7 linked regions of the Homo sapiens genome follow. The protein of the gene in region 4 purifies or fractionates together with the protein of the main gene of each other region. This does not show direct contact. Each region holds a gene or a part of one and is shown on either strand. Other genes may lie near its edges. The genes, in order: MTCL3, UTP11, SPATS2, ZNF276, ARK2N, YTHDC2 and TENT4B.

Region 1 (4,229 bases), on a different chromosome or scaffold from region 4:
TGCCTTCAAGCTACCGTATAGACTCCTTCCCCAGTCCTGAGATTCTCCACTATACAACTGAGAGTGATTTTCTCTGGAAATAATGATCATGTTATTTCAACTTATGGTAAAAAAAAAAAAGTGGCTTTCATTTGTTCCTTTCCAGGGGGTTGTAGACACAAAACCATGTCTCTTTACCACTGGTTTCTACATTTACCAGTAGTTATCCATCAGTTCTGTTTTATTTAATTAAATTAATTTTTTTTATTGAGACAGAGTCTCACTCTGTCGCCTAGGCTGGAGGGCAGTGGTGTAATCTTGGCTCACTGCAACCTCCCTCTCCCCGGGTTCAAGTGATTCTCCTGCTTCAGCCTCCGGAGTGGCTGGGATTACAGGAGTGCGCCACCACACCAGGCTAATTTTTGTATTTTTAGTATACACGGGTTTCGCCATGTTGGCCAGGCTGATCTCGAACTCCTGACCTCCTGCCCTCTTTGGCCTCTGGGATTACAGGCATGAGCCACAGTGCCCTGCCATCAATTCTGTTTTAGTTTTATTCTTTCTTTTTTTTGAGACAGGGTTTCACTCTTGCCCAGGCTGGAGTGCAGTAGTGCAATCACCATTCACTGCAGCCTCGACCTGCCTGGGCTCAGGTGATCCTCCCACATCAGCCTCCGGAGTAGCTTGGATTACAGGTGCGTGCCACCACACCCAGCTAATTTTTCATATGTTTTGGAGAGACGGATCTTGCCTTGCTGACCAGGCTGGACTCGAACTCCTGAGCTCAAGCAATCCACCCTCCTCGGCCTCCTAGTCTAGTCATTTTTTTTAAATCCTAAACTCAATATGGATCTTGGCTCAAAAACCACATATCAGCAGTTAAATATTCCTATCCAGGACCATCTTGCAGTTCATCTGCTAGCAGAGTAACAGAGAAAAATATTGACCTTCTAAAATAATAACGTGCCTCAAAATCCGTTACTCTTTCCACAACAATTGAGGGTAATGGTGTTCAGTTTTCCTTTTAAACAAAACAGAGGAAGAAATGGTGACTATGTGATGGAGTCACAAAAACCTCAGCCCTGCAGAAGGACAGTGTGGAAGAACTGGTGGGCCGAGGCCGGGGGTTTCAGGCCCCAGCGCGGCCCTGAGCGGGGGCTTCCCTCAAGCGGGGCGCGGCAGTCCGGGCGCCGAGACGCCCCCCAGGGACGCGGCTCCACGGGCCAGCCTGGCCACCGCCGTGGCTCGCAATAGGCAGAACTGTACCTGACTCACGGAAATGGGCTCCTCGGCGCCGCGGTCGTCCGCAGACTTGGGCACCTCGAGGCGGTCGATGAAGGTCTGCAGCTCCTTGCGGAAGGCCTTCATCTGAGCGTTGATGCGGTAGAGCAGCTCGTGCTCCCGGATGCGGCTGCCGTCGTCCTCCTCGTCCATGAGTCCGAACAGGTCCCCGTTGGCCACGTAGATGCGCGCCTCGGTGATGATGGTGCTCGTGTCGGCGATGAGCCGGTCGATGGTCTTGCCCAGGCGCTCGGCCTCCGAGCGGATGTCCTTCATCTGCTGCCGATCGGAGAAGCTCTTGGGCCAGGGCCCGGGCGCCGGGTAGAAGGAGCGAGTGGGCGTGAGGCAGCGGATGTTGCGCACCTCCTCCGAGTCGCTCTCGCCGCCGATGGGCCCTTCGCGCTTGCGGTGCGGAGGCCGCGAGTCGTCGTCGCTCTCCTTCTTGCCCGCGTCGCTCTCGGCGTCGCTGTCGCGGGGGCTGCCGCGGATGCCCAGGTGCGAGGCCAGGTCGTAGCGCTGCATGTTGGACATAAGCACGCGGTTCTCGTACTGCAGCTGCATGACCTTGCCGCTGAGCTCGTTGATCTGCAGGCGCGCCGCCTTCAGCTCCTCCTGCAGGGCCTCGGTCTTGGCGTTGTCGTGGTGCCGCGCGCTGTCGTGGCCGCCGGACTTGTACTTGTACTTGTTGAGCTCCGCCGTGATGCGCTTGTTCTGCTCCTCCAGGTCGGCCACGTTCCTCCGCAGCAGCTCCGTCTCGTCTTCCACCAGCTGCAGGTGCTGCCGCAGCTCCGACAGGGATTCGCTCTGCTCCCTCATGAGCGGGTTGGCCGAGCCGTTGAAGTCATCGCCCCTAAGGTCGTCCAGTTCCGCCTTCAGGCCTCTGTTCTCCACCTCCAGTTCGACGATTTTCCTGCCCAGGATGTTGGCTTCTTCCTCCACCAGCCTTAGCCGTAGCTTGAGCTCGGCCTCCCTAGTGCTGGGAGGGCCTCCGGCTTCTCCTTTGGGCAAAGGACTGTCCAGATCCCCATAAAAGGATCTGTACTTCTGGAGCTCGTGTTCAAATCTGTCCTTTTCTTTATCAATCTTGGCCATTTTCTTTCTCATCAAAGCGGCTTCTTCCTTAACAAACTGCAGCTGGCACTTCAGATCTTCATTGTCCTCCTCATTTGGGGGAAAAGAGGGAAAAGGATAGGAGATCATTTTTATGTAAATCAAGGAAACAACCAAAAGAGGACACCTGGATAAATAATTTTTCTTGCAATCCAGATTTAATGACAGAGAGAAACAGAAGCAGATACTGTGTATTTTCTTCAGATCACTTAAATTCTCTGGCAAATTAAAGATTAGAACAATGTTACATCCTGGAAGCAAAAAGGAAAAGGAATATGAAAAGAGAATAACTGTGGCATCACTATTCAGAGATTATTATATGTTGTAACTGCATACAACTGTTTGGTGATCATTTCAGCAGTGTTTCTTTTGTTTCATTATTGCAGTAATAAATATAAAATCTGTTCAACGAGCATGTGGTTCATATGCATTTGCGGCCACTTTTTTGTCACTTACACTGAGCCAAGTGCTGAAAAGTGTTTTACAAATATGAACCTAATTTAATATTCAGAGTAAACTTAGGAGTAGTTATTACAGTTCCTGGTTTAAAGATGTTCAGTAACCGTTCGAAGGTTACACAGCTAATGAATAGCAAAGGACAAAGGTGAAATTTGAATCCAGTTCTGTCTGAAACAAATGCTCAGGCTCTTGATTTCTGTGTCACTTAGGAAATAATCTGCCCCCTGTTTTTATTCAAAGGAAAATTGTTTTAGAGGCCTGTAAGTCAGCAAAGTTTGACATTGGAATGGTCCATCCAAGGAGAAACTGTTAAGTTTTCCATCTAGATCACATTTAAAATAGGTTGTACTCCCATCAGTCTGAAATGGATAAAGCCTGGCAAAAGAATAGTGGAACTATAGAAGTTCTTCTCACACATTCTTACGACAACCTCAGAGCCCAATCATTAACTAAATTGAAAAGTACAAAAGGAGGAATGGAAATCTTTCTCTGAGGGATATTACTGAAGCATGTTATTATGTCTAAGGTCATTTCTCCCAAGGACAATTTCTCAAAATTCTCTTTTAAGTGTGTACTTTGAGCCAATCATATAACTTCTGTGAACTTTGGTTTCTTCATTAAAAAAACAAAAATAAAAATTCTTTCCTTATCCAGTACTCGGTCATCTGTGTTTGAGATGCATTCTGGTAAAGAAGGAGCAACCACTGGTGAGAAGGTGAGGAGAATAATGAGCTTCTGCCAGAGATGCTCAGTAAATACCACACAGAGCCTTTGAGATGGAAGAGATGGAGAACAGGGCACAGGTCTTCTGTCTTCCTATCTACTAATGGGAATATGAAGAATATGAAGGGTTTGAGAGCTGCTGGGTGTGCAGAGCCTGAACATTACATTCCATATAGTATTAAATACTTATATCAGTCCTTCAAGATAGGTGATGCTATCTCCCCTTTACCGATAGGGGAGATTTATTAACATTGCAGTGCACAAGTTAATAAGTGACAGAGCACAGTCTATATTCTGGCTGAGTCCCAAACTCATATTCCTTCCACTGCACATGCTGCCTCTAGAAAAGAAGCATAAAAGAAAAAAAAATAGAGCAATGTGGTAAAATCAAAGAAGTAAGATGTGTTGCCTTGTACACTTTCCTCTAGGAGAGGTTTAGAAGAAAGAAGAGAAGGACTACCAGAAGAGATGAGAGAGCCTTAGCAGCATCCAGAGAGGAGAAGAGGGCATGTCATGGAAAGCTTTGATGGAAGATTTTTTGAGGATGAGACCAAGGACATGTTACAATGTTTTGGATCACATCAGCAGAGGAATCAAAGATGACCCTGAATTTTTGAGTTGAGGGGTCTCATTGGATTGTATGGCCAATAGCAAGGATAGAGAATGAATAAAGAGGA
Region 2 (4,805 bases), on a different chromosome or scaffold from region 4:
TATTAAGGACAGAGAGAGGCAACAATGACTCGGCACTAAGCAAGCAGTTGCCAGTTGTACTAAAATTACTACCAACTTAATCCAAGGGTTTATAAAATACTACAAAGGGAAAACATAGTAACAGGGAGGCAACTGTGGTAAGGGAGCTAAATTTAGAGTCTGGAGATGTGGGTTCAAATCCAAGCTTTACCTCTGAACAATCTGTGACCTTGGGCATGTCACTTAACTTCTCTGAGCTGCTATTTCCTGACTGTAACATGAAAATAGTACCTGCTTCTCCGGGTTATACTGAGGATTCAAGGAGCTTCTATTAATGGTAATGCCTGCACATGGCTTGACACATAGCAGCTTTCCAGCATGAGTTTACTATTATTATTATACTTGTGGTACTCAGTATGAGAAAAAAGTATGACAGAAAGTACTTTCTCTGACGTAGACTTGGAGAGCATGGAAGGTATAAGGATTAAATCTTGGTATGATCCTTCTACATACTACCATTTGTTGAGCACTTAGTATATGTCAGGGTCTTGCAATGTGCTATGCTCCTTACACAATTTCATTTAATCCCCACCACAATCTTGGAAAGAAGGTGAAACAGGCACTATTGTTACCCCAGTTTTCCATAAAGGGAATGAGGTTTAGAGAATGATATGCCCAAGAACACAGAACTAATAAGTAGCAGAGCCAAAACTAGAACCCATTCTCCCTAGGGCCATCACAGTAGACTGAGTCCTCTTCTGTTGCGAATAATCTTAACATTTTGGGAAATGCATACACTTCTCCAGTGTTTAAACTTGTATAATAGGCCGGGTGCAGTGGCTCATGCTGTAATCCCAGCACTTTGGGAGGCCACGGTGGGTGGGGCATCTGAGGTCAGGAGTTCAAGACAAGCCTGGCCAACCTGGTGAAACTCCACCTCTACAAAAATACAAAAATTAGCCGGGCATGATGGCAGGTGCCTGTAATCCCAGCTACTCAAGAGGCTGAGCTGGGAGAATTGCTTGAACACGGGAGGCGGAGGTTGCAGTGGGCCAAGATCACACCATCGCACTCCAGCCTGGGCAACAGGGCGAGACTCCGCCTCAAAAAAACAAACAAAAAAAAACTTGTATAATAATTTGGGTAGGATTTTTAACAGTCATCTTTCTCATCTTTTATCCTTCAAGTGATGCAATAAATAACTATTTAAGGCCAGGCTCACACTTGCAATCCTAGCACTTTGGTAAGCTGAGGTGGGCAGATCACTTGAGCCCAGGAGTTCGAGACCAGCCTGGGCAACACAGTGAGACCTCATCTCTACAAATTAAAAAAATAAAATAAAATTAGCTGGGTGTCACAGTACACGCCTGTGGTCCCAGCTACTCAGGAAGCTGAGGCAAAAGAATGGCTTGAGTGAGGGGGTCGAGCCTGAAGTGAGCCGTGATTGCCCCACTCACTCCAGCCTTGGCAACAGAGGGAGACACTATCTCAAAAACATAAGTAAAATAATACCAAACCTCCCCTAATAATTTTAACTTTAATTACAGCAAAGGGAGGTTAACAGAGTAGAGAAAGCAAGCTAAAGGGTCAAAAAAGCAACAACATGAGGTGAGGCAGAAATCTTGAAATCTCTCATGTCCACCTGAATGTACAATCGCATTACAAAAGGAAACCTGGTATTGTATCTGAAATAGTTTACGTAATAACACATACACCCTCCATACAAAATATCTTCAGTAGCTCCCCTGCTGCCCTACTGAAGGATCTGCAGGATAAAGTCCAAACTACCCAAATATGGAACGTTTGTGTCAACGGTTTACCCACCTTTTCAGGATGGTCTTCTTCTCACCTCTTCTACACAGGCCATCTGTTCCTACTCAGCCATGGCCATGCCATGTCCACAGCCAGCTCTGAAAGCCCTCTGTCTTCTCTGCTAATCCAATTCCACTACTTACAACTGTGACTTTGGATATACTATTCAATCTCTTTAAGCACCAGATTCCTCATTTGTAAAATGAGGAATGAGGGTAACATCCACTTCAGAGGGATGTTGTAGGATTACATGAGACAATTGTAAAAACATGCAGGGCTGTGCCTAGCATATAGTAAGTGCTCAAAAGGTGATAGTTTTGGCCGGGTGCAGGGGCTCACGCCTGTAATCCCAGCACTTTGGGAGGCCAAGGCGGGTGGATCACCAGAGGTCAGGAGTTCGAGACCAGCCTGGCCAATCTGACAAAACCCCGTCTCTACTAAAAATACAAAAATTAGCAGGGCATGGTAGTGTGCACCTGCAGTCCCAGCTACTCGAGAGGCTGAGGCAGGAGAACCGCTTGAACCTGGGAGGCGGAGGTTGTAGTGAGGCGAGATCGTGCCACTGCACTCCAACCTGGGCAACAGAGTGAGACTCCATCTCAAAAAAAAAAAGTTTGATATATGCTATTAAGCAGGAAGACTGAACTGTAGTTAAGAGGCCTTAGTTCTATCCCATCAGTCAGCTGCACAACTCTTTCCCCTGTCTTCCTCATCTGTAAAACTAAGTTGGAGCACATATGTATGTCTAAGGGCCTTTCTGAATCAGATATTAAGCACGGGATTCCTGACAGTGTATCAACTGATTCTGCATATAAGCTTATTTCTACTCAACCTCCCTACACAGACACACCCACCATAGAAATCCTAGAACTGTTTACTCTGCCTGAATCTGGTGTTTGTAACTGGACAAGTCACCACTCTGGACCTCAGTTTCCTCATCTGTATAATGGGAATGGAAAAGGCCAACATTAAGGGGTAAGGCTTAAACAAAAAGCACATATGGCAGATCTTCATGAACCACAAGCCCAGCGTGATGATGATACCACATTAGTAACCACAGTCTCTTCGGTCAGGGCCCCCATATGCAGCAGGCGGAGCTGCCCATTAGACGTGGGATCCAATTTCAGCCCAGCAGTTGTTGCCTACATGAGCTCTGACCTCAACTCCTCAGAAGAGACCAGGCACTTGACAGACATCTTACTCAATCACCACACTGAAATCTTCCAGAGCAGGTTTTATATCCCCAAGGAAAGGGGGGCACCCCTGCTTTTCCTAGAACGGAAACGACAAATCCCCTCCACTCGTTCCCACGAAGCTCCGCCCCAGCCACGCCAGCGTCATTAACATACATTTACGTGCATTTATATACTATACAGTTTGGACCCGGATCCCACGGTGGCGACAGGGTTGGGGCAAGGGTAACACATGGCGACAAAGGCCAGCACTTGTGGGGCCTGTATGGTCCTACCTGGCTTCGCTCTCTGTGTTCCCGCTGCCGGGACTTAGCCGCCTTCCGAAAAGCCGCCGCCATGTCTGTACAGCCTTGGAAAAGATCAGTGGAGAACGCCGGATCCGCACTGCCTCTGCCGCCAAGTCCACTGATTCCTACCGGAAATAGGCCTAGCCGCCGGCGGTTTAGAACCGCCTACTTCCTCTAAGCAACCTATCCGGAGCCGGCTTTCAGGAAGTACGTCATTTAACAGAGGCAGTCACCGCAGGCTGCTTCTGGGAAGTGTAGTTTCCCAGATATAGTCTCGTGACTCTATAAGAGCCAGTTCTTATTCGCTAGCGCCTGTCCACGCTACCCAGATCTCGCCTTCGCGCTTGGCCCGCGTGGGCACCTGGGAACACGTGGCTGGCACTGGCCTCCGTCTGAGCTGGGCTTAGCGTGTGCGCATGTGCAGTCACTTACAGCTCGGCACGGGTTGCTGTATCTAGAAGGTATGTTTAAAGCTAGAGCAGTACGGATTTAACAGTTTTGGGGCTGGCTGGGCGCGGTGGCTCACGCCTGTAATCCCAGCACTTTGGGAGGCCAAGGCAGGCGGATCACGAGGTCAGGAGCCTGCCCAACATGGTGAAACCCCGTCTCTACTTAAAAAAAATACAAAAATTAGCTGTGCTTGGTGGTGCGCGCCTGTAATCCCAGCTACTCGGGAGGCTGAGGCAGGAGAATCACTTGAACCTGGGAGGCAGAGGTTGCAGTGAGTCGAGATGGCGCCATTGCACTCCAGCCTGGGCAATAGAGTGAGACTCCGTCTCAAAAAAAAAAAAAAAAAAAAAAAAAACACTGTTGGGGCTCAGGACTCACCACTCCAAAATATGACTGTGGGAGGCCAGAATATGCCACCCCAAAATATATATTTCTCTGGCTTGTTTCTTAAAGCTGGTTATGCTGAGAAACTGCAGATACAGGAGTTGCTCTGAAAAGCTGTCCTTCCTTTTGTAGAAATAAATTTATCACCTACAAAGGAAATCTACATTTTTAGTGAGGTATCTGTGTCAAGAAGAGGGCTGACAACTATTACTTCCTGAGAGATTTTATCTCCATAACAGGACATTTCCTCCTCTCACCTTCCCATAATATGTGTTGCCACCAGCCCCCAGAGGCCCCATGCCACTATTCTTTTCTGTAACTTGGGACACTATATAAACTTCATTCATCTGACCTGTCCATTTTTTGCTCCTCTACAACAGTGTACAGGAAAAAATATTCTATAGAGAGACAAGAGACCTTAAAACCATAACTGGCTCTGCCATTCACTTACAGGCTGTGTGACTTTTGGCAGGTTTCTTGACTTTAATGAGCATCATTTTTCTCAAGCATAAAATGAGGATAATAATAACATACACTTCTTGCCTCATATTGCTGTCAAGAGCTCACAGTTGAACTGAGGAGTCATATCTGTAAAGAGCATAGAAGGAAATCACCCAATGACAATAGCTATAAAGTTCTGAGTCCCTCACATCCCTAAGGGAATGGCTGGTTGACGATATGCGAATCAGAGGCAGTACAA
Region 3 (4,229 bases), on a different chromosome or scaffold from region 4:
GATTACAGGCTTGAGCCACCGCACCGGCCTAAAAGGAGACTTTAAAGTATATGATCTACTCTATAATTATGTGTCCCTTTCCAAACAATATTAAACTCCAGCTCATTTCTAGAGCATTGTGAGTTATCTGTACCATTCTCACACTGTGACCAAGAGAAATAGAACAAAGCAGAAAGCTAAATATACCATAGGATTTATAAGTCTCTCCTACTATGTAGTTAGTCATGAATGAATGAACTTGGGGAATGGCTGACCATCTTTATATTTATATATGATCATTTTTATGCTACTGATATCAAATGCAGCTTAAATTACCAGCTCTCCAATTCAGCAAAGGCTTGTTTCATTTTCTTAATGGAGGCATCCATCTCTTCTTTAACTACAACTCGATACCGTGCAAGAGACACTGTGCAGCGCTGGAGGTCTTTTACAGATTTTTCAATATTGGAACCTTGGGGAAAAAAACCGAAATATTAAAAAAAAAAAAAGAATAATTATATAGGTAACTTGAAAGTCGGATCTGAACACCAAAGCCAAATGTCATGTAGACTAAGAATCTTTCCTAAATAACCACCTTCCCCAATGAGAAAAACATGTTTTTATAGATTTTTGGAAAAAAAAGGATCCTGGTCAAGATGGAATAATAATAATTGGATTTATTCTTCTATCTTAAACAACTAAAAACATACAAAGACAAAATATATGAAACAATGGTTTTCAGACAATGTGTAACAGGTAGTACTTTTCCCGAGACAACAGAAACAAATGAAGTGAGGCCTATGATTGCCCCAACTTGCTGCCTCAATAGTTTCTAGGCTACAATGCAGGGAGGAGAAATCCTCAACAGCCTGGTGGACCCCCTGAATTGAAGGGACAAAGTTGGGAATTTGGAAAGGCCAAGATGGCTGAAATTCTGGGGCAGAGTATTGGTGAGGAAAGAGCTACACACATGAGAGAGCTGCACGGAGATCCACAGAGGATTCTGAGTGTGGACCAGTGCATGAGTATAAAGAAACTACCCAAGACTGGAAAGACAACAGGCAAAAAAAAAACAAAACAAAACCAAAGAACCACCAAAAAACAAAACAAAACAAAACAAAACAAAACAAAACAAAACAAAACAAAACAACCAGGCAGAACAATCCCCAGAGCTCACCAGGCCAGGGACAGTTTGTGCTCACACCAGCCAGAGTGGAAAAACCTCACAATATATGGCAGGCAGAGTAGTTGGAAGGATACTGCCTCAGCAACAGGGCAAAATTATTTCTAGACTAAAGGCTGCTCTAGTCCCACCTAAAAAAGCTTAAAAGAAACAGAAAAATATGACCTATAAGTAAGAGAAAAAATCAATCACAGAGGCAGATGCGGAAATGACACAGATGATAGAATTGAGTAGAAAAGGACATCAAACAGCTATTATAATTAGATACTATAGGGCCAGGTGTGGTGGCTCACGCCTGTAATCCCAGCACTTTGGGAGGCCAAGATGGGTGGATCACCTGAGGCCAGGAGTTCAAGACCAGCCTGGCCAGCATGGTGAAACCCTGTCTCTACTAAAAATACAAAATTAGCTGGGTGTGGTGGCACGCACCTGTAATCCCAGCTACTCGGGAGGCTGAGGCAGGAGAATCACTGGGAGGCGGAGGTTTCAGTGAGCTGAAATCACACCATTGCACTCCAGCCTGGGTGACAAGAGTGAAACTCCATCTCAAAAAAAAAAAAAAAAAAAATAGATACCATATGTTCAAGAAGGTAGAGGAAAGCATAAGCGTGGTAAGAAGAGATATGGAAGATATCTTAAAAGACCCCAGTTGAACTTCTAGAGACAAATAAAACAATGCCAGAGACATATACTGCATAGAATTAACAGCAGAATAGAAACTGTTAACAAAAGATGAATACAGTTGAAGACAGCAGTTTTACAAACTATCCAAAATGAAATGAAACACACAGAGAAAAAAGACTTTAAAAAAGGTACCAAATTTTCAAAATTCCTTAAGTTACAGGATTTAATAGAATATAATTCACCATGTGGACATTACAAAATTAAAATGTTCTGTCTGTATAGTACACTTCAAAGCACTGTATATATGAGGAAGCCAGCTTTGTAGAAAAGGATGGACTGCATTTACCTACTCAACACATTTTAACCAATTTCCAAGAGTTCTATTTACCTTTCTATATTCACCAATCCCCAAATTACATATATAATTGATTGCTGGAAACATGGATCTAAAAAGTTTGTAACTATGCCAAGATATGCATTTCCAATTTTTTTATTTAAATTCTTCCTCATCTCAACTTGATTTTATTTTTTAGAATCCACCTAAAAGCTTTCAAGCCTTGTGCGCATATATATATATATATATATATATTTTTTTTTTTTTTGGCTTGATTGGATAGTCTCAAACCTGCTGATCTGCAACAGGCTGAGGGCTACCAGAACAATGAAAAAGGGGAGCTTACCTAATTAAAATTTGGCTCATGTGTAATAAATAATTCCATAAAGAGCTACTGATTACAAGTGTCCTTTATATTTCTATGTTTCATTTGTTTAGTGGAGTGGACCACCATGCTTAGATGTATGAAACTCAGATATAGGAAACACAGGGTATTATCTCTGTCTGCTGAATTACTGGCTGTTTGTTTAAATGATTATTGTAGTTTTCTTTTTTTTTTAAGCAAAGAGCTATCACCAGTCAACGCCACATACTTAAGAGAAAATGACCTTACTTTTTCTAAGCTAGAGTCTGTCAGAGGACTCTAGCTCAGTAAGAGCATGAAGTTATGAAGAGGAGTGAAAATATTTCTTTAAAATGTCAATGTTGGCTGGGCGCAGTGGCTCACGCCTGTAATTCCAGCACTTTGGGAGGCCGAGACAGGCGGATCACGAGGTCAGGAGATCGAGACCATCCTGGCTAACACGGCGAAACCCCATCTCTACTAAAAATACAAAAAAATAGCCGGGCATGGTGGCACTCGCCTGTAGTCCCAGCTACTTGGTAGGCTGAGGCAGGAGAATGGCATGAACCCGGGAGGCGGAGCTTGCAGTGAGCCAAGACTGCGCCACTGCACTCCAGCCTGGGGGACAAAGTGAGACTCAGTCTCGGGGGAAAAAAAAAAAAAAAGTCAATGTCAGAGAAGGTAGAGCTTTTACTTGTTGGGTCAACCAGAAGATAAAAATGAAAGAAATAGCACCAAAACGTTGCAATAAAGCAAATAAAGAAACAGGTTAATGTTAGCAGGTAAATCATTCTGGCAGTAGAGTTTGACTTTAATTCACAAAACGTGCCGTCGTAAGTAGATTGTACAGCATTTAAACTACTTTCAGACTCCAACTGTGTACACAAAGGTTAGGGGAAGGGCTGAGTAGTCAGTCACTGTCTGGAAAATGGAAAAATATTAACTGATGCCCTTCTGAAACCTTATTTATGGCAACAGAGATAATTTGCCCTCTTTAGCCAAAAACACAGATTTTTCATTTTCTCTCACAGGTGGGCCTCTGACTTACTTAGCTTTTTACTGGTGGCGAGGGGAACATCTTCCATCCCCATATTTGAAAACTGAGTTTCTGTGGTAGGTCTTGAGAGAGATTTGGCAGCATTCCTGGGTTGTTGAGAATTGTGAATAGAGTGCATAGTCAAAGACTTGGTCTCAAAATCAGAGACACCATTCTGCAGCATGGATCCTGTCCAAGAAAGAGGACTGTACTTTAGAGCACAATTTAGGAGTAAACCAGTCATTCTTAAGTACACAAAGAAAACAGGTAAAAATGTTTGAGGCAAAACCATGCCTCTTAAAAGACTGTAAACAAAATCAACTGAAACAATAGAACAAAGATCAGAATCAGCTGGGTATGGCTATCGGCAGCTTCGGGCTTAGTCTTAAGTGGCGTCCGGAATGAAGAGAAGAGTCTGTGGCAACACATCTTTAGATAGGGAGCTCAATCCCTGTGGCTCTGTGGCTTCTTTGTAGCTTGGTAGTTTCTATGTAAGTCTGGCACAAGGAATCAAAGAAAGTCAGTATCACCAACTTCTGCAAGCCTCCATGTTAAGAAAAAAAGAGTTTTAAACTCTCTCGAGGAAAGAAGAATTTAAAAAGCTTTAGGGGCCAGGCATAGTGGCTCACGCCAGTAATCCCAGGTATTCAGGAAGCTGAGGCAGAAGGATCACTTGAGCACAGGAGTTTAAGACCAGCTTGGGCAACAGAGAGAGACCAGGTCTCTCAAA
Region 4 (4,229 bases):
TAACATGGAGCTCTTGTTGCACTAAAAAGTGGATTACAAATCTCCTCGACTGCTTTAGTGGGGAAAGGAATCAATTATTTATGAACTGTCCGGCCCCGAGTCACTCAGCGTTTGCGGGAAAATAAACCACTGGTCCCAGAGCAGAGGAAGGCTACTTGAGCCGGACACCAAGCCCGCCTCCAGCACCAAGGGCGGGCAGCACCCTCCGACCCTCCCATGCGGGTGCACACGAAGGGTGAGGCTGACACAGCCACTGCGGAGTCCAGGCTGCTAGAGGTGCTCATCCTCACTGCCGTCCTCAGGTGGGTTCGGGCTTCACCGCCTGGCCCTCTGTGGTCACAGAGGGGCTCGGTGGCCCAGGTGGTGGTTCCGCCTCCAGGGGCAGGGCCTTGTCCTGGGTCTGTGTCAGCGGGTGCACCATGGACATGTGTACATTGAGGTTGTGGGCCTTCTCAAACCGCCGGCCACACTGGTCACAGGCAAAGTCCAGCTCAGTCTCAGCCTTGTGTTTGGTCATGTGGTACTTGAGGGATGCCCGCTGCCTGCACTGGAACCCACAGACCTCACACCTGGGGGACAGAGGCAGATAAGAAGGTGCGAGGGCCACAGCCCTGGGAGGGGGTCCTGACTCACACTTACTGCAAAGGCTTGGCTCCCGAATGTCGCATTTGGTGGACGAGAAGGTGCTTCCGCTGCTTGAAGGTTTGTCCACATTCGTCACAGATATAGTTCCGCACCTCTGAGAGGGGAGAGTCCAGTGAGTCCAGGCCCCTGATGCTCCAACCTCCCGGGGGGACGACGATGACAATGTGAAACCATCACAGCTGGGAAGACATTTCTGCACATGGTTCACCATGCAGTGGGCCCAAGCAAGGGGCCTATGAGGGCCTCGTTTATTAAGATCTTTAAACTGCTTTATACACTGTCACGTGGCTTCATCAGCTGTGTGCATTTCAGGATGGTTTTTAAAGAAACCTCAGAAAGCTATTTCCTTAACCACAGATTCTTGTCTTTTTTTTTTTTTGAGATGGAGTTTCGCTCTGTTACCCAGGCTGCAGTGCGGTGGCGTGATCTCAGCTCACTGCAACCTGCGCCTCCCAGGCTCAAGCGATTCTTGTGCCTCAGCCTGCCAAGTAGCTGGGATTACAGGCGCCCCCCACCACGCCCAGCTGATTTTTGTATTTTTAGTAGAGACAGGGTTTACACCATATTGGCCAGGCTGGTCTTGAATTCCTGACCTTGTGATCTGCCTGCCTCGGTCTCCCAAAGTGCTGGGATTACATGTGTGAGCCACCGTGCCTGGCCTACAAATTCTTAAAGGAAGCCGTATCACTAAGGTTGTATAGAATACTGATTGTCACAGCTATGGCTGTTCTCTAGAATTCATCTCCATATGAGAGGGGTCCATACCCAGGGTCTGGGGGTATGCATTGCTGTACTGGCTCTGGAAATCTTTCTCACACCCTTGAACAAAGAGATCTCACTTGCTAGTCCACAAATGCCACATGTGGACATGCAGACCCACTCACCCTGTGCTGCCTCCACATCTGTCAAGCCCTGAAACGCTTCACAAGACAGACTTTTCTCTTCGAAGGGAAACCCTATCTTGGCATTTTACTCTACGCTGTTCTTTTTTTTTGAGACTTGAGTCTTGCTCTGTTGCCCAGGCTGGAGTGCAACAGCCCAATCTCAGCTCACTGGAAACTCCACCTCCCAGGTTCAAGGGATTCTTTTTTTTTTTTTTTTTTTGGAGACAGGGTCTTGCTCTGTTGCCCAGGTTGAAGTGCAATGGTACAATCATGGCTCACTATAGCCTGGAACTCCCAGGCTTAAGTGATCCTCCTGCCTCAACCTCTCAAGTAGCTGGGACCACAGGTGTGCACCACCACACCCAGGTAATTTAAAAAATTTGGGGGGCCGGTGCAGTGGCTTACACAAAGTGCTCAATCCCAGCACTTTGGAAGGCCAAGGCAGGCGGATCATGAAGTCAGTTCAAGACCAGCCCCAGCCCAATCAATATGGTAAAACCCTGTCTCTACTAAAAATACAAAAATTAGCCAGGTGTGGTGGCACACACCTGTAGTCCCAGCTACTCGGGAGGCTGAGGCAGCAGAATTGCATGAACCCAGGAGGTGGAGGTTGCAGTGAGCTGAGATTGCACAGCTGCACTCCAGGCTGGGCGACACAGACTGTCCCGGAAAAAAAAAAAAAAATTGGGGGCTGGGCACGGTGGCTCATGCCTGTAATCCCAGCACTTTGGGAGGCCAAGGCAGGCAAATCACCTGAGGTCAGGAACTCGAGACCAGCCTGGCCAACATAGCAAAACCTGCCTCTCTACTAAAAATAGAAAAATTACCCAGGCGTCATGGCTCACGCTTATAATCCCAGCACTTCGGGAGGCCGAGGCAGGTGGATCACAAGGTCAGGAGATTGAGACCAGCCTCACTAACGTGGTGAAACCCCGTCTGTACTGAAAATACGAAAAATTAGTTGGGTGTGGTGGCCAGCACCTGTAGTCCCAGCTATTTGGGAGGCTGAGGCAGGAGAATGGCTTTACCCCAGGAAGAGGAGCTTGCAGTGAGCTGAGATTGTGCCACTGCACCCCAGCCTGGGCGACAAGAGCAAGACTCAGTCAAAAAAACAAACAAACAAACAAAAAAAAACACCCCCGGCGTGGTGGCAGATGCCTGTAATCCCAGCTACTCAGGAGGCTGAGACAGGAGAATTGCTTGAACTAGGGAGGTGGAGGTTACAGTGAGCCAAGATCGCGCCACTGCACTCCAGCCATGGTGATAAGAGTGAGACTGTTTCCATCAATAAATTAAAAAAAAAGTTTTTGGTAAAGACGGCCTCACTATGTTGCCCAGGCTGGTGTCAAAATCCTGGCCTCAAGCAATCCTACTGCCTTAGCCTCCAAAGTGCTGCGATTACAGGCATGAGCCACTGCACCCGGCCCAATTTCAGGTTTTTAAGGAACTGCTGGTTGTGACCATCAGTGACCGGACAGATGCAGAGTCTGAAGGACCAAACCCAAGGAAGTGCTGCCATCAGGAGAGATGTCGGAGAACCCAAAAAATAACAACCCGCATGTCGGGAGATGACCCAGCAGTGAAAAGCAATCCTAATGAAAAAATACTTCAGTAAATTCAAGTAAGAATAAATAATTCTTATTCTGTAATAAGTTCAAAACCAAGGAAAACTGTGTGTGTAAGGATCAATATACAGTTGTCCTCAGCTGGTTCCAGGCCCCCCCCCACCCCTTACCAAAATCTGCTCATACTGAAGTCCCGAAGTTAGCCCTGCAAAGACCCTACAGAACCTGCACTTAGGAAAAGGCAGCCCTCTGAATACCAGGGATTCGAGTCCCTGACCATGGATATGTGGGTCCACGTGGTTCAAACAAGTTTTTTTTTTGAGACAGTGTCTCACTGTTGCCCAGGCTGGAGTGCAGTGGTGTGATCTCGGCTCACTGCAACCTCCACCTCCGCCTCCCAAGTAGCTGTGCCTACAGGCGTGTGCCACCACACCCAGATAATTTTTGTATTTTTAGTAGAGACCAGGTTTTACCATGTTGGCCAGGCTGGTCTTGAACTGCTGACCTCAGGTGATCCACCCACCTCAGCCTCCCAAAGTGCTGGGATTACAGGTGTGAGCCACCACGCCCGGCCAAGTTTGTCATTTTGAAAACATATCCTTGTTGGATTATAAAAGTAACTTGTGCATTATAGAAATTGTGAAAAATAAGACGGGCACAGAGACAGCACCCTCAGTCATAATTCCCCCATCCGCCTCCGGTCTTAATGACACGACCTACACACATGTGAAAAGGCAGAACCACACGTGCCTCCCGCCTGTCCACGTGGGCAGCTCCCCAGAGCTGGTGTGCCTTCATGCCTTCTGCCTTGCCTTTTAAGATACACTTGTTTGGGCCAGGTGCAGTGCTCACACCTGTAATCTCTGCACTTTGGAAGGCTGAGATCACTTGAGGTCAGGAGTTAGAGATCACCCTGGCCAACATGGTGAAACCCCGTCTCTACCAAAAATTACAAAAATTAGCCAGGCATGGTTGCGGGTGCCTGTAATCCCAGCTACTTGGGAGGCTGAGGCGGGAGAATTGATTGAACCTGGGAGGCAGAGGTTGTGGTGAGCCAAGATGGTGCCACTGCACTCCAGCCTGGGCAACAGAGCAGGACTCCGTCTCAAAAAAAAATTAAAAAATAAAATGACCA
Region 5 (3,958 bases), on a different chromosome or scaffold from region 4:
ATTCCCTGAAGCTCCTGCTACCCTTTGCTAATCCTTTTAGACTCTGTAAAACTTACCAATGACATTAACGTGCTTTGCATCTGATTTCTTATGGTACATTCTGATTCTTCTTATGGTATTTTTTTTTAGAAGGTAGAGGAGAAAAATACCCAAATACAGCATCAGGTCCACTTCATCTCGGATGTTAAACAGTTGTTGCTACATACTCTTTATACAGAGACCAGCTATGAAAGACGGCACTTTCCTCTCGGATTTGCAAGTGCCTGTAGCCTCAGAGGCCACATAACTTTTCATATTCTTCCCAACAGGTTTCTATGTTCACCCGTTATTTGACTAAACCAGAAAAAAAGGCGAGGGAGAGAGATTTTTCCCACTGAACTCTTAATACCTTCAGATGCCCAGAACACCTCATGGTGGGTATCTATCTGAAATGCCTCTGTCTCAAAGGAGACATTTTGCAAAGAGTTATTAATTATTGCAACAAGGAGAACAACTAGGTCACCTTAGTAGTATTTATAAACACAAAGGGACATGTCAATTATCTGTGCTGTGGGAAGTCAACAGGAGCAAACTCAAGAAAGAAGGCAGAAGACTTAAAATAAAAGAAAATATAATTTTAATACTTCTGTCTTCTATTTTTAAGGACAAGTTTTTAAATGCACATGCCCTACTAGGTGCCAATAAGGACCTGACTGATATGTGTGCGAATGCCCTAAGATGGGAGTGCCAATGGGGTGGGCAGATAGTGGTCAAGTCTAGATATTAATTTCATTATACAGAAAAATAAATACAAGATTCAAAAACTGAAACCCATTTTGCCTGGCAATTAAAATATTATTCTAAAAGGAAGGCAGAGTTTCCTAAGATTAAAAGTCACCAAGTAAAATAAAGTTGTCTAATAAAATTCATCATTCTATATTCCTACTGAGGGAAAGAAGAAATTCTTTTCTCTGTGATGTTATTTTCCTAAGTGACTTCTTTTAATTAAAAAAAGGGGGGAAGAGGAGGGAATTTTCCATGAGTTTGAATCCTACAAATGCCACAAACAGCTTCTGAAGCTGAAGCTATGACAATGAACTTCCATGTCACAAAGAGGATGAGGAAGTGGAAGGGAACAGTGCAGAGGAAACACAGTGACATTGTATTACAGTAGGTATTTACGCCTGCTATCCTCATCCAAGGTAAGGTCAACAACTTCTGCTGGTGAAGCCCAAGTCTGCTGGGGAGTCACAGCAGTCCATGACTGTGTTTGCCTGGTGCTAACATACTGCGTGCCCGAGCCATGCTTCCATGAAGAAACACTCTGAATCACACCACCTCGAGGATGAACACACCTGCAATTGAGATGAAGAACAAAAGCATGGTTAATTCCACCACAGGAAAAACAGAAGACAATATGACCTCAGTTGTACTTATCAACATTTTTACTAAGATAAACCTAGTATGCAAGTTCATAAAACCCACAATCAATATCCTTCCCTCCATCTCTGTCTCCCTCTCTCCCTACCCCACCACACCCCACTTGGTCCCTCTCTCAGTTTAGCCTTAAAAAGGCCAAGGGTCTTATCTCAGCCAGAAACTCCTGAGTTGTGTCACTGACCATGGGTGACAGGATGTTTCTCTGGACTCATTTACACCTCTGGGATCTTCATGATAGGGCAACACATAAATCCAGAACAAAGTTAAGATGCCCAAACAATCTTAGTCTGAACAAATCAAACAGTAAGAAAAATAGTTAAAACTTGTTCTTAAAATAAGCTTTATAATTGGTAATAATGCCTTCAAAGACAGTGACAGTAATACCCTTTCACAGATTAAATTTCTAAAAGTCTGTAAGTAATAGATCATGAATAAAGGATCAATTTCCCTTGTCCTGAAGGTCACAACAGAAGCACTTGGTTCATTCAACAGAATCGCTTATAATTTGGTTCCGTGAAAGTAACACAGCTGAATCTTCAGTTTAGATCCACTAAAAGGGTTCTATCGGAGGGAGAGAACTGCCTTGTTAGCAAGTCACACCAAGAGTTCACTGAAATAAAATTGTTTCAGAAACACTGACAGTTTGAATTCCACAGTCCAGTCAAATGATAGAATTGTGAACCTCCAGGCCAAAACACTAAGTTCTGACTCAAATGAGAGGAAGGCAGGCAACTCATGTGATCAATGCTATGTCCTCTCATCTAAACTTCCTGACCAGCCCTCAGGTAGCTTATGTGAGAAGTAACAAGTGGCATGAGTCTAGTCACTAAACTACCACAGTGGCTCCTGAGCAGCTGTTTGACAATCTGTAAGCAACAAATAATGCTGGGCCACTTGAGAATTTCAGCTTTGGTTTAATGCTACCTACACCACCAGATTCAAAAGAACATTAGGGTAACAATGGACACGATTCAGTTGCAAAACTGCCCCAAGGACCCTTAAACTCCTGCAAACATGCCCTACTCCTACAAAGGCTTAATCTGATAACTTCTCCCTTACTAAGAAAAATTCCTAAGAACAGATCTCTCAGGGCCAGAGCAGAGGGCAGAACGCAAATTTGCTACAGTACCAGAAGCCCGTCATCTGTCCAGAGATGGGCTATGTAGTTACTAACCCAGAGGCTACTACCTTTTCAAAGATTAGCTAGAGAAATAAATAGGGACATTAAAATAAGGGACATAAAGCCCAATGTCTAATTCACATCTGTTCAACCCATTATATAAATTCATATTAAGTGACCATGTAGTCATGGAAAAATGTCAGCCAAAGGAGTCCATTCAACATTTATAGAAATGGTTTTGATGACTGAAGGCCAACGGAACACTACCTTTACTAAGCAGTTTCACATATATTATCTCATTGGACAATTCTGACAGACCTATGAGGTAAGCATGGAATTTACTATCCTCACTCTACAGAGAGGGAAACTGAGGCTTAAACAGGTTACATGATTTGCTCAGAGTCACAATGCTTGAAAGTGATAGGCCAAGGAAGACAGGTCTGATTTTGGGTCCAATGCTTTCCATATCATGTTGTTGCTTTACAGATGTGTGTATTAAATCGGGTGCAGCAAAACACAACAAGAATCATCAGAGTACAAAAATAGACCCAAACTAACAATTTAGAAGTATAAAGTTACTTGACAATTCAAAAGCTCACCTGTATAAGCACTAATTGAAGTAAAGCTGGCTAGAAACCTGGTAAGAATTCAGGCAACGAGTGGCAAAGAGAGTCAATGTAATCTTTGGCAGAATTTCTAAAAATATCTCCGAAGTAAAAGAAGTATATAGTCCCAATTGTTTATCTGTATTGCTCACTAAGTAATCATACAATGTAACGTCAAGCAGTGGCTTTTTAAAAAATCTGATCTAATCTGTTTATTATACAGAAGAAAAAACCTAGGCCAAAAGACAACCATCCAGGCTCTTAAACAAGTTAAGCATAGAACTGGAGTAAAATCAGGTCTCCACTCGAGGGTTTATTTTCCACTGAATAACAATGCCTTCTTCAGGCTATACCTGAAGTTACTACATCATGTTTGACTGAAAGAAGCACTGCCTGGTTCCCAGGGCCATTCAATAAGCGGCAAAGAAGAGTTTAGAAAGTGTCTGGCATAGGAAAAGAACTAGGAGAGTGAGAGGTTTAGAGACCTTATTTCCTACTGAGGAATGGCTGAAGGAGAGAGAATAGGAGACAGGGCACTTCAACTATCTAAAAATAGATCACTTCTGAAGTTATGTTACAAATGGTTCCAGTTACCAAAAACCAGCTTAGGCTACTTTAAACAATGAAGAGAATTTATTAGTAGGACACTGGGCACCTCAAAGAGCCTAAGATGATGGAACAACCCCTAACCCTCTCTATTTCTCCTACTTCAAAATTTTAGATTATCTGGAGAATGTGATGATACTATCTTCGGTCAAAAGCTTTCCTAACTCTAATTATTAATAGTTGTACATGGAATTCCCAAAGGGAGAAT
Region 6 (4,229 bases), on a different chromosome or scaffold from region 4:
CAAATATGAGAATGCTGACTCCTTCTCATTTAAAGAAAAAAAAAAAAAAGAGATTCTTTTATTTTCAATAATCCTTTATTCTTGGGAAAACCCAGTTTAAATGTGACCTAATTTTTTATTTTATTTAGCATATTACATCTATGATCATAAGTAAGATAAACCCATAATTTTCATTTCTAATATCTTCTTTATCTGAGTTAGGTAGCGAAGTTATACTAGTTTCATAAAAAACAGGAGGTGTCCCTCTCTTTGATTCTCCAGGAAAAACTGAAGTAAAAATAAAATTATGTTTATTGTGCAGCCATAAAAAAAGAGTAAGTTCATGTCCTTTGCGGGGACATCGATGAAGCTGGAAACCATCATCCTCAGCAAACTAACACAGGAACAGAAAACCAAACACTACATGTTCTCACTCATAACTGGCAGTTGAAAAATGAGAACACATGGACATAGCGGGGGAACATCACACACAGGGGCCTGTCAGGGATTAGGGGGAAAGGAAAGGAAGAGCATTAGGACTAATATCTAATGCATGCAGGGCTTAAAACCTAGCTGATGAGTTGATAGGTGCAGCAAACCACCAGGGCACATGTATACCTATGTAACAAACCTGCACATTCAGCACATGTATCCCAGAACTTAAAGTAAAATAAAATTAAAAAGAAAAGAAATTATGTGTATTGACTCTTTGATTTAAATTACCTCTGAATGGCATTTGTGTGAGTAAATTTCTAATCTTGATTAAATTTATATAATGAATTTTTTAAAAAACCATTGTTAGGATTAAATGATAATCCATTTAAAGCACCTAGCACAAGTATACAACAACACTTAGTAAATGTTTGCTCCTGCCTCCTCAAGGAATGCAGCCCTGCCGATATCTTGATTTTAAGTCCATGGGACCTCTGTTGTTGGACTTCTGACCTCCAGAACTGTACTTTGGTACTCTATTTGGTACCTGTTAGGCAGTGACCTTAGCAGTCACAGAAGAAACTTGTACTTGGAAAATCTACTTTCATATACTTCATATTTTCCCATTCTACAGATTTTTAACAAAGTTCATTTTGTAAAATCCATTTTTGTCTAACTTGGACTGAGAAAAATCGAGATGGGATTTTGTTTTCATTATAAACAAGCCAAAGACTTAGAAAAGTGAGCCTTTAGGACTAAAACACACTGACCTCAGCGTGACTTTAAACACAACCTTTAAAGTTGAGGAAAAAAAGTAAATAATGATGTGAAATTTTTGGTATGTGAAACCTGACTAGAATTTCAAAGAAAACTTTAGGATATATTAAAAATCACAAAATGGGGCTTTTACTCCAAGAATGTTTTCACTAAAAGATGAGCAATTACAAAAAATAATCAAAACAGCGCCAAGGCACACTAGTTCAGGCCTATAATCCCAATACTTTGGGCGGCCTAGGCAGGAGGATCACTTGAGCCCAGGAGTTTGAGACCAGGCTGGGCAACATAGCAAGACCCCATCTCTAAAAAAAAAAAAATCTTAAATTAGCCAGGCATGGTGGTGCATGCCTGTGGTCCTATCTACTTGCGAGGAAAGCCTGAGCCTAGGCGTTTGAGGCCATACTGAGCTATGATTGTGCCACTGTACTCCAGCCTGGACAACAGAGGAAGACTCTGTCTCTAAAAAATAAAAATAATCAAAGCAGGTAAAATTCAATTATTTAGAAGATGAAAAACAAAATCCATCACAAATGACATAATTTTGAAAGAAAGAGTATCAAAAAGAAAAAATTGACCAGAAAAAAATTGAAAGCTATCACACAATAAGTCTGGAATCTATTTTTTAAAACTTATATAAAAAGCCCAAATAAGAGAATGAGTCAATGAGAGACTGGAAATAGAATCCAGGCTTTCTGCACTTTACACCAGGTGGCCTCTCAAATAGGTACTAAGAAACTATAATATCAGACACCTACAGATACACACACACACACACACACACACACACACACACACACACACACGAAAACTAACTTACTGAATCAATAAAGTTAACGATAGATTATTTTTTTAAAAATCGGCTGGGCCCAGTGGCTCATGTCTGTAATCTTAGTACTTTGGGAGGCCAATGAGGGAGGATTGCTTGAGCCCAGTAGTTCAAGACCATCCTGAGCAACATAATGAGATGCTGTCCTCTACAAAAAATAGAAAAATTAGTTGGGTGTGGTAGCATATGCCTGTAGTACCAGCTACTCAAGAGGCTGAGGTGAGAGGATTGATTGGGCCTGGGAGATGGAGGCTGCAGTGAGCAGCGAGCCGTCATCATTCCACTGCACTAAAGCCTGGGTGACAGAGCAAGACCTTGTCTCCAAAAAAAAAAAAAAACAAAAAAACGCCAGGTGCAGTGGCTCACGCCTGTAATCCCAGCACTTTGGGAGGCCAAGGCGGGCAGATCACGAGGTCAGGAGATCTAGACAATCCTGGCTAACACAGTGAAACCCCATCTCTACTGAAAATACAAAAAATTAGCCGGGCGTGGTGGTGGGCGCCTGTAGTCCTAGCTACTTGGGAGGCTGAGGCAGGAGAATGGCGTGAACCCGGGAGGTGGAGCTTGCAGTGAGCCGAGATTGTACCACTGCACTCCAGCCTGGGTGACAGAGCAAGACTCCATCTCAAAAAAATAAAATAAAATAAAATAAAGTCAAAGGGTGAACAGAAAATTTCATGGATAAGTCAGGTACAAATTCTCATACAAATGAAAAGAAAGGATTTGAGAAGTAGATTCAAAGTGATTTCTTTCTTTTTGTGAAAAGAAGAAAAGGCATTTGAAAATCACAAGGACCACTAAGAAAATATAGTACAAAGTTTACTCAAAGATGAAAAAAAGAGAGAAGGAGCTAGGGTATTTCGTAAGAAGGTTTGAAAGCATTAAGGTTATAGGTATTAGGGACTGGATAAATAGGCAGGATTGCCTTGCTTCCCTTAGCATCTCTTTCCTTTTTCTTCTTTCTCTGGCTCTTCAATGTTTCCGCATTCCCCATTTTTGTCTCCATAACTTCCTTCTTGAATTCTCCTTCCCAAGATATCTATTCATTCCAGATCAGCTCTTACATGACTATGCTACTGAAGAGAAGGACAGGAAGTCTACTCTAATGGACTGCTTTTCTAAGTTAGCTGTTTAGAATGCAAGACCCATGTAACCATAGAAATGATGTAGCTACAGAACTGTACATTTATAACATGTGTTTCCAAGCACAGGCCCAAAACCTCTTACCTGCAACTAGTAAACCCAAACAGTGCCAAAAACTGGAAACTTTTAAGTTTGCAGTAACCTCATTTGACATCAAATGTGATCACGTGATTAAACTGACATGAGGTTATTAATAGTCTCAGTGTGAATATTCATAGAATTTCCAGCAAAAATATAAATGTGACTAAAGGTGATGGCCATATTTTATTAGGTAGATTATACAACATATTGCAAATATACCCAAATACCTTTCTAAAGTCTAAAAAATCTGAATCTCAAATATATTTAGCCCAAGTGTTTCTGGATAAAGTATTGTGGCACTGAACTATATTTTTATTTTCAGGTGCAGTATTTTTACCTACCTAGTGGACTATAAGATGGGCACATTCAGGAATCTAACCACTGTTCCAGCACTGGCCTTAGTGATGTTCAAAACGCACATTCACCTAAACTAAATCCCGTGTCTCAGTAATTTATCACTGTAGTAGGCAGTCATATGCAAGACATTCCTACATCAGCTGCTTTCACTTTGGGACCATCTGAATATTTATTAATATATTTACTTAATAAAGTTTTGTTTTCCCTCTTCCTAACCTAAAAACATACCGGTAAGCTGAAATTTTATCCTTTTCTTCCCTCTATGTCAGTAGTTCTCAACCTGAGCAATTTTGCTCTCCAGAGGACATTTGGCAACCTCTAGAAGCATCTCTGGTTGTCACAACTGGGGTTAGGAGTGTTAGTGGCATGTAGTAGTAATGGCTATGGATGCTGTTAAACACCCTACAGTACACAAAACAGAATAAAGAATTATCCAGTCCAAAATGTCAATAGCACCAACAGTGAGAAAGCTTCCTTTACATTGATCCCACCATCCTTATTAACAAAATGAAATAGCGCCACAGAATTTTAGAGTTTTTCAATTTGGATGGCTCAAATGACTTTTCCCTCAATGTAACTCTGTGATCCTCCCAACAAAACAAAACAATTTCCTCCTGTACCACTTTTTAAAATC
Region 7 (4,229 bases), about 40 Mb from region 4:
AAAAACCACTGAATTGTACATTTTTAATGCTGAATTTTATGTTAACTATATCTCAACTAAAAAAAAATTTGGCCAGGCGTGGTGGCTCACGCCTGTAATCCCAGCACTTTGGGAGGCCGAGGCAGTCGGATCATGAGGTCAGGCGATCAAGACCACGGTGAAACCCTGGCTCTACTAAAAATACAAAAAATTAGCCGGGTGTGGTGGCGGGCACCTGTAGTCCCAGCTACTTGGGAGGCTGAGGCAGAATGGCATGAACCCGGGAGGCGGAGCTTGCAGTGAGCCAAGATCGCGCCACTGCACTCCAGCCTGGGCGACAGAGCGAGACTCCGTCTCAAAAAACAAAACAAAACAACAACAACAAAAAATTCAACCAGAAAGCTGAAAAAAAATTGAGTGAAAGAAGCCTTACACAAGACTATATTCTATGTGGTTCCATTTGTATGAAATTCTGAAACAGGCAAAACTAACTATGGTGTTAAAAAGTCATAACAGCTGGGCTCACGCCTGTAATCCCAGCACTTTGGGAGGCTGAGGCGGGTGGATCTCTTGAGGTCAGGAATTCGAGACCAGCCTGGCCAACATGGTGAAACCCCATCTCTACTAAAAATACAAAAAATTAGCTGGGTGTGGTGGCACATGCCTGTAATCCTAGATACTCAGGAGGCTGAGGCAGGAGAATCGCTTGAACCCAGGAGGCGAAGGTTGAGGTGAGTGAAGATCATGCCATTACATTCCAGCCTGGGTGACAGAGCAAGACTCCGTCTCAAAAAAAAGAAAAGAAAAGAAAAGAAAAACGTTAAAGGCCAGGTGTGGTGGCTCATGCCTGTAATCCCAGCAATTTAGGAGGTTGAGGCGGGTGGATCACAAGATCAGGAGTTCAGGACCAGCCTGACCAACATGGTGAAACCCCGTCTCTACTAAAAATACAAAAAATTAGCTGGGTATGGTGGTACGCACCTGTAATCCCAGCTACTCAGGAGGTTGAGGCAGGAGAATCGTTTGAACATGGGAGGCGGAGGTTGCAGTGAGCCGAGATCATACCACTGCACTCCAGCCTGGGTGACAGAGGGAGATCCCGTCTCAAAAAAAAAAAAAAGGAAAAAACAATAAACAAATACTGGAGTCTGGCTACAAGGATGCACAAGCTACAGTACTCTAGGGGAACTGATGTCTGTAATCTACTTTGAAATGGATCAAAGAATAAGATGAATTAATGGATAGAGTGATGGATAGACAGGTATGACATAAGCAAGTAAAAGGTTAATAGCAGAATCTACTGGTGAGTACATGAATGCTCACTAAAATTTGTTCACTTTTACTATATGCTTGAACTTTTTCATAACAAAATGTTGAGAAAATGTACAAGCATGAAAGTTATTAAAATATCCCAGTAACATGTAAGCAAAGGAAGTAGCCTTAGCCTTCGAGACAGTGTTAACCCCAGCAAGAGAACGTGCATGCATCTGAGTTCAGAAGAGCCGAGGCTTTCATACTTACTACATCACTAGAGCTGGACTGTGTGGCAGAAGAGGACGACACTGGACCTGATGAAGAGTTTGAAGAGTGTTTACTAAGAGATTCCGAGGTTTTACTTCTACATTTTCCAAGGGCTTCATTTTCTTCAGATAGATTATTATTACATTTATCTAACTGCTGAGTATCTACTATCAAGGTAACACCATTTCCTGAAAGAGTGGCAAAAGATTGGAAAACGTTTCTTCCCATTAAACGCACACAACACAGAAAAGCCTCTAATACTCAGTCAATCGACCAAGGAAAATATCTTACCATTGCATGAAGGCTCAGGTCTATTCTTCAAGCCCCACTGCTTTGATATCCAATCTCTATATGTGGCAACTTCATCTGTTACTCTAATTATTCTACCTAGTATGCTGCATGTGTTTAAAAAGAAAGGGAGAGGGAGGGAATAACATTAATTTGAAGATAAGAAGCCACAACTAATTTTGACACAATGGGCTGGTTATAGATGAACTTTTACCTTTCTGTTTCATTGTTGGGATAGTACTTTGCTATTGGTGATACAGCATGACTCAAAACAACGTAGGCATAATCAAAGGCCTGCTTCACTTGCATGGCCCCATATGAACTCCTTCCAACATCGTTACCTTTAAAAGAAATATACGTAACATAGTAAGCCTGACTGTGCTTAATATGCACTAAATGTTGATGACTCTCTTCCAGGAGAGCAAGGGCCATAGTTATCCCACCAGAGTTGTGCCTGGAAGCTGAGCTGTGAGCTGTCCCCAAAGCTCCCCAGTCTCTGAATATGTGAATCATGCAGTTGGTACTTCATTATGGTGTATCAGTTGCCGGAATGTATTCTGGCCCATCAAGAATTATCCCATTCCATACATAAACAGTTATGCAAACAAAAGAAATAGTGCCCTGTTCACTCCTAAGAGTGAAACCCCAAGTTACATCAGAAATACTTCTATATTTTTTGGGTTTATATTAGCTATATATCTATTTCTCACTCTAAATTATGAGCCCCTAAAAAGCAAGGATCGTCTTGCTGAAAAGTCTTCGTGTCCTTTGGCCCAATACTTTTGAACAGAGCAGGCTCCCAATCAATGTAATGTTTCCTCAATGAATAAACACATAGAACTATTAATGTTTATAAGGCAGCTCAATAAGCCAGAAAATGGTTCCTAGGCAACTACTCTATCTCTTCACCCCCTTTCCTTACTCATTTTCAAAGTTTACACATTAAAGCAAATGACTAAAAGCACTTCCACTGAAGTCCAATAACGCAGAATCTATTTTACAATTATATCAAGAAAAAATATTGCTCACAAAAATCAGGACACAAGCAAGCAAACAGAACTTCAGAAAAGCATGGAAGGAATTTACTTTCTGCTTACTTTCAAGCCCACATGAAGCTGGAAAAAGCACAAAGAGACATGCAAAATCAAACAGGAAAGGAGAAATTCAAAAAGAAAATACATTGTCTCCTTGCACCCTTCTGCTCATGAATTCAAAGATATATTACTATGCTTGCTGCCTCTCAGGACTTCAGAATCATCTCATTAAAGCCTCATTAATTGCTGACAATTGGTTGTAATCAAGGCAATAAGGACCCAAGAAGGAGAAACAGCCACCAAACATGAACCCATCCAAATAAGTGAATGCCTTTTCTACTATGCTTTTAGGGTTAAACAGATTCTACTCCCTACTTATCTGGAAGTCTCCAAGGTGTTTTTCTATTGTCTGTGTCTGTTTATTTTAGTATGTTTGCTCATGAAATATTTCGATGAAAAAAGAATAACAATTAGAAGTTGTTCCTTCATTTTTCATCTAAAGAGAATTTAAAGTATAATAAGGTGACTGACAGTGCCCTCTCTTTGAATGCCCACAAATTTACCTAATTTCAATACCTGGTTGTAAAGGATCTTCGATATAAAGCATTGATGGCCTGTAGCCATCTAGCATATTTTTCTGTACTTCATCTTTGGCCACATATGAACCACCATCCTTTATCCGGATGCCAGTCTTTAAATAATTGAAGTGTCGTCCATATAATTCAAAAAATTCTATTAAGAGAACACCATAGTTTGTATTGGGGATGCAAGCATCTTCCCTGGGATGTAACTAAAAGCAGAAAAGAAGAAATTATATTGGATTTTTGCTAAATTATCAAGGAGAGGGGGAATAAATTATATTCTAACTTCTACAAGCAATATTATTATAATTTTGGTTTAGCATAGCAGTCAGTTGATAATGGGCTAACAGCAGGTTATACTGTTGTTACACACAACACTAAAGTCCCATGGTGCGGGAATGGCGGGAGACTGTTTGTAAGGCTGAATTTTACGGCTGCACCAGGCTGCCAACCAGGGCTGGCTTGGCCCAACACATCAGCAAAGTCGTTCTGACTCACGAATAGACTCAGGCAGTTGGCAACCCTGTGCCACATAAACATACCCACTTACAATACTAAGACTCTAATTCGCTTACCCAAATAGCTGGTCTCAATTCCAACTAAACTTACAAGATTTAGCTGCTTAGAAGACATTCTTATTGTTGGCATTTATACTATTTATGCTTATGGAAACCAGGCCGTACATTTTGCATGTTAAAATTTGCAGTGAAAAGTCTCAAAAATACTAGAATGTATGGGATTTAAAACCAAAAATATTCTTTCATAGGAATTTAAAAATACATATTTGCTAAATGATAAAATGTACCCAGTTTAAAGGGAAAAGCCG

The links.
Region 1: the proteins of ZNF276 (region 4) and MTCL3 purify together in Homo sapiens (affinity purification with mass spectrometry; one large-scale study listed by BioGRID and IntAct). This does not show direct contact.
Region 2: the proteins of ZNF276 (region 4) and UTP11 purify together in Homo sapiens (co-immunoprecipitation; one large-scale study listed by IntAct). This does not show direct contact.
Region 3: the proteins of ZNF276 (region 4) and SPATS2 purify together in Homo sapiens (co-immunoprecipitation; one large-scale study listed by IntAct). This does not show direct contact.
Region 5: the proteins of ZNF276 (region 4) and ARK2N purify together in Homo sapiens (co-immunoprecipitation; one large-scale study listed by IntAct). This does not show direct contact.
Region 6: the proteins of ZNF276 (region 4) and YTHDC2 purify together in Homo sapiens (co-immunoprecipitation; one large-scale study listed by IntAct). This does not show direct contact.
Region 7: the proteins of ZNF276 (region 4) and TENT4B purify together in Homo sapiens (co-immunoprecipitation; one large-scale study listed by IntAct). This does not show direct contact.

The regions. Positions count from the first base shown.
Region 1 is NC_000006.12:127,474,048-127,478,276, forward strand, and holds part of MTCL3 (microtubule cross-linking factor 3 precursor), read right to left. Parts: intron 2,422-4,229; coding exon 1,246-2,421; intron 1-1,245.
Region 2 is NC_000001.11:38,011,320-38,016,124, reverse strand, and holds the start of UTP11 (probable U3 small nucleolar RNA-associated protein 11), read right to left. Parts: upstream 3,392-4,805; 5' UTR 3,323-3,391; coding exon 3,260-3,322; intron 1-3,259. UniProt on the Homo sapiens protein: Part of the small subunit (SSU) processome, first precursor of the small eukaryotic ribosomal subunit.
Region 3 is NC_000012.12:49,496,292-49,500,520, reverse strand, and holds part of SPATS2 (spermatogenesis-associated serine-rich protein 2), read right to left. Parts: intron 3,689-4,229; coding exon 3,512-3,688; intron 452-3,511; coding exon 316-451; intron 1-315.
Region 4 is NC_000016.10:89,734,316-89,738,544, reverse strand, and holds part of ZNF276 (zinc finger protein 276), read right to left. Parts: intron 997-4,229; exon of another isoform or gene 825-996; coding exon of another isoform or gene 740-824; coding exon 640-739; exon of another isoform or gene 570-639; coding exon 299-569; 3' UTR 1-298. UniProt on the Homo sapiens protein: May be involved in transcriptional regulation.
Region 5 is NC_000018.10:46,260,305-46,264,262, reverse strand, and holds part of ARK2N (protein ARK2N), read right to left. Parts: intron 1,335-3,958; coding exon 1,145-1,334; 3' UTR 1-1,144. UniProt on the Homo sapiens protein: AMPK substrate important for exercise capacity and skeletal muscle function.
Region 6 is NC_000005.10:113,516,319-113,520,547, reverse strand, and holds part of YTHDC2 (3'-5' RNA helicase YTHDC2), read right to left. Parts: intron 1-4,229. UniProt on the Homo sapiens protein: 3'-5' RNA helicase that plays a key role in the male and female germline by promoting transition from mitotic to meiotic divisions in stem cells.
Region 7 is NC_000016.10:50,222,557-50,226,785, reverse strand, and holds part of TENT4B (terminal nucleotidyltransferase 4B), read right to left. Parts: intron 3,613-4,229; coding exon 3,399-3,612; intron 2,130-3,398; coding exon 2,003-2,129; intron 1,896-2,002; coding exon 1,792-1,895; intron 1,689-1,791; coding exon 1,501-1,688; intron 1-1,500. UniProt on the Homo sapiens protein: Terminal nucleotidyltransferase that catalyzes preferentially the transfer of ATP and GTP on RNA 3' poly(A) tail creating a heterogeneous 3' poly(A) tail leading to mRNAs stabilization by protecting mRNAs from active deadenylation.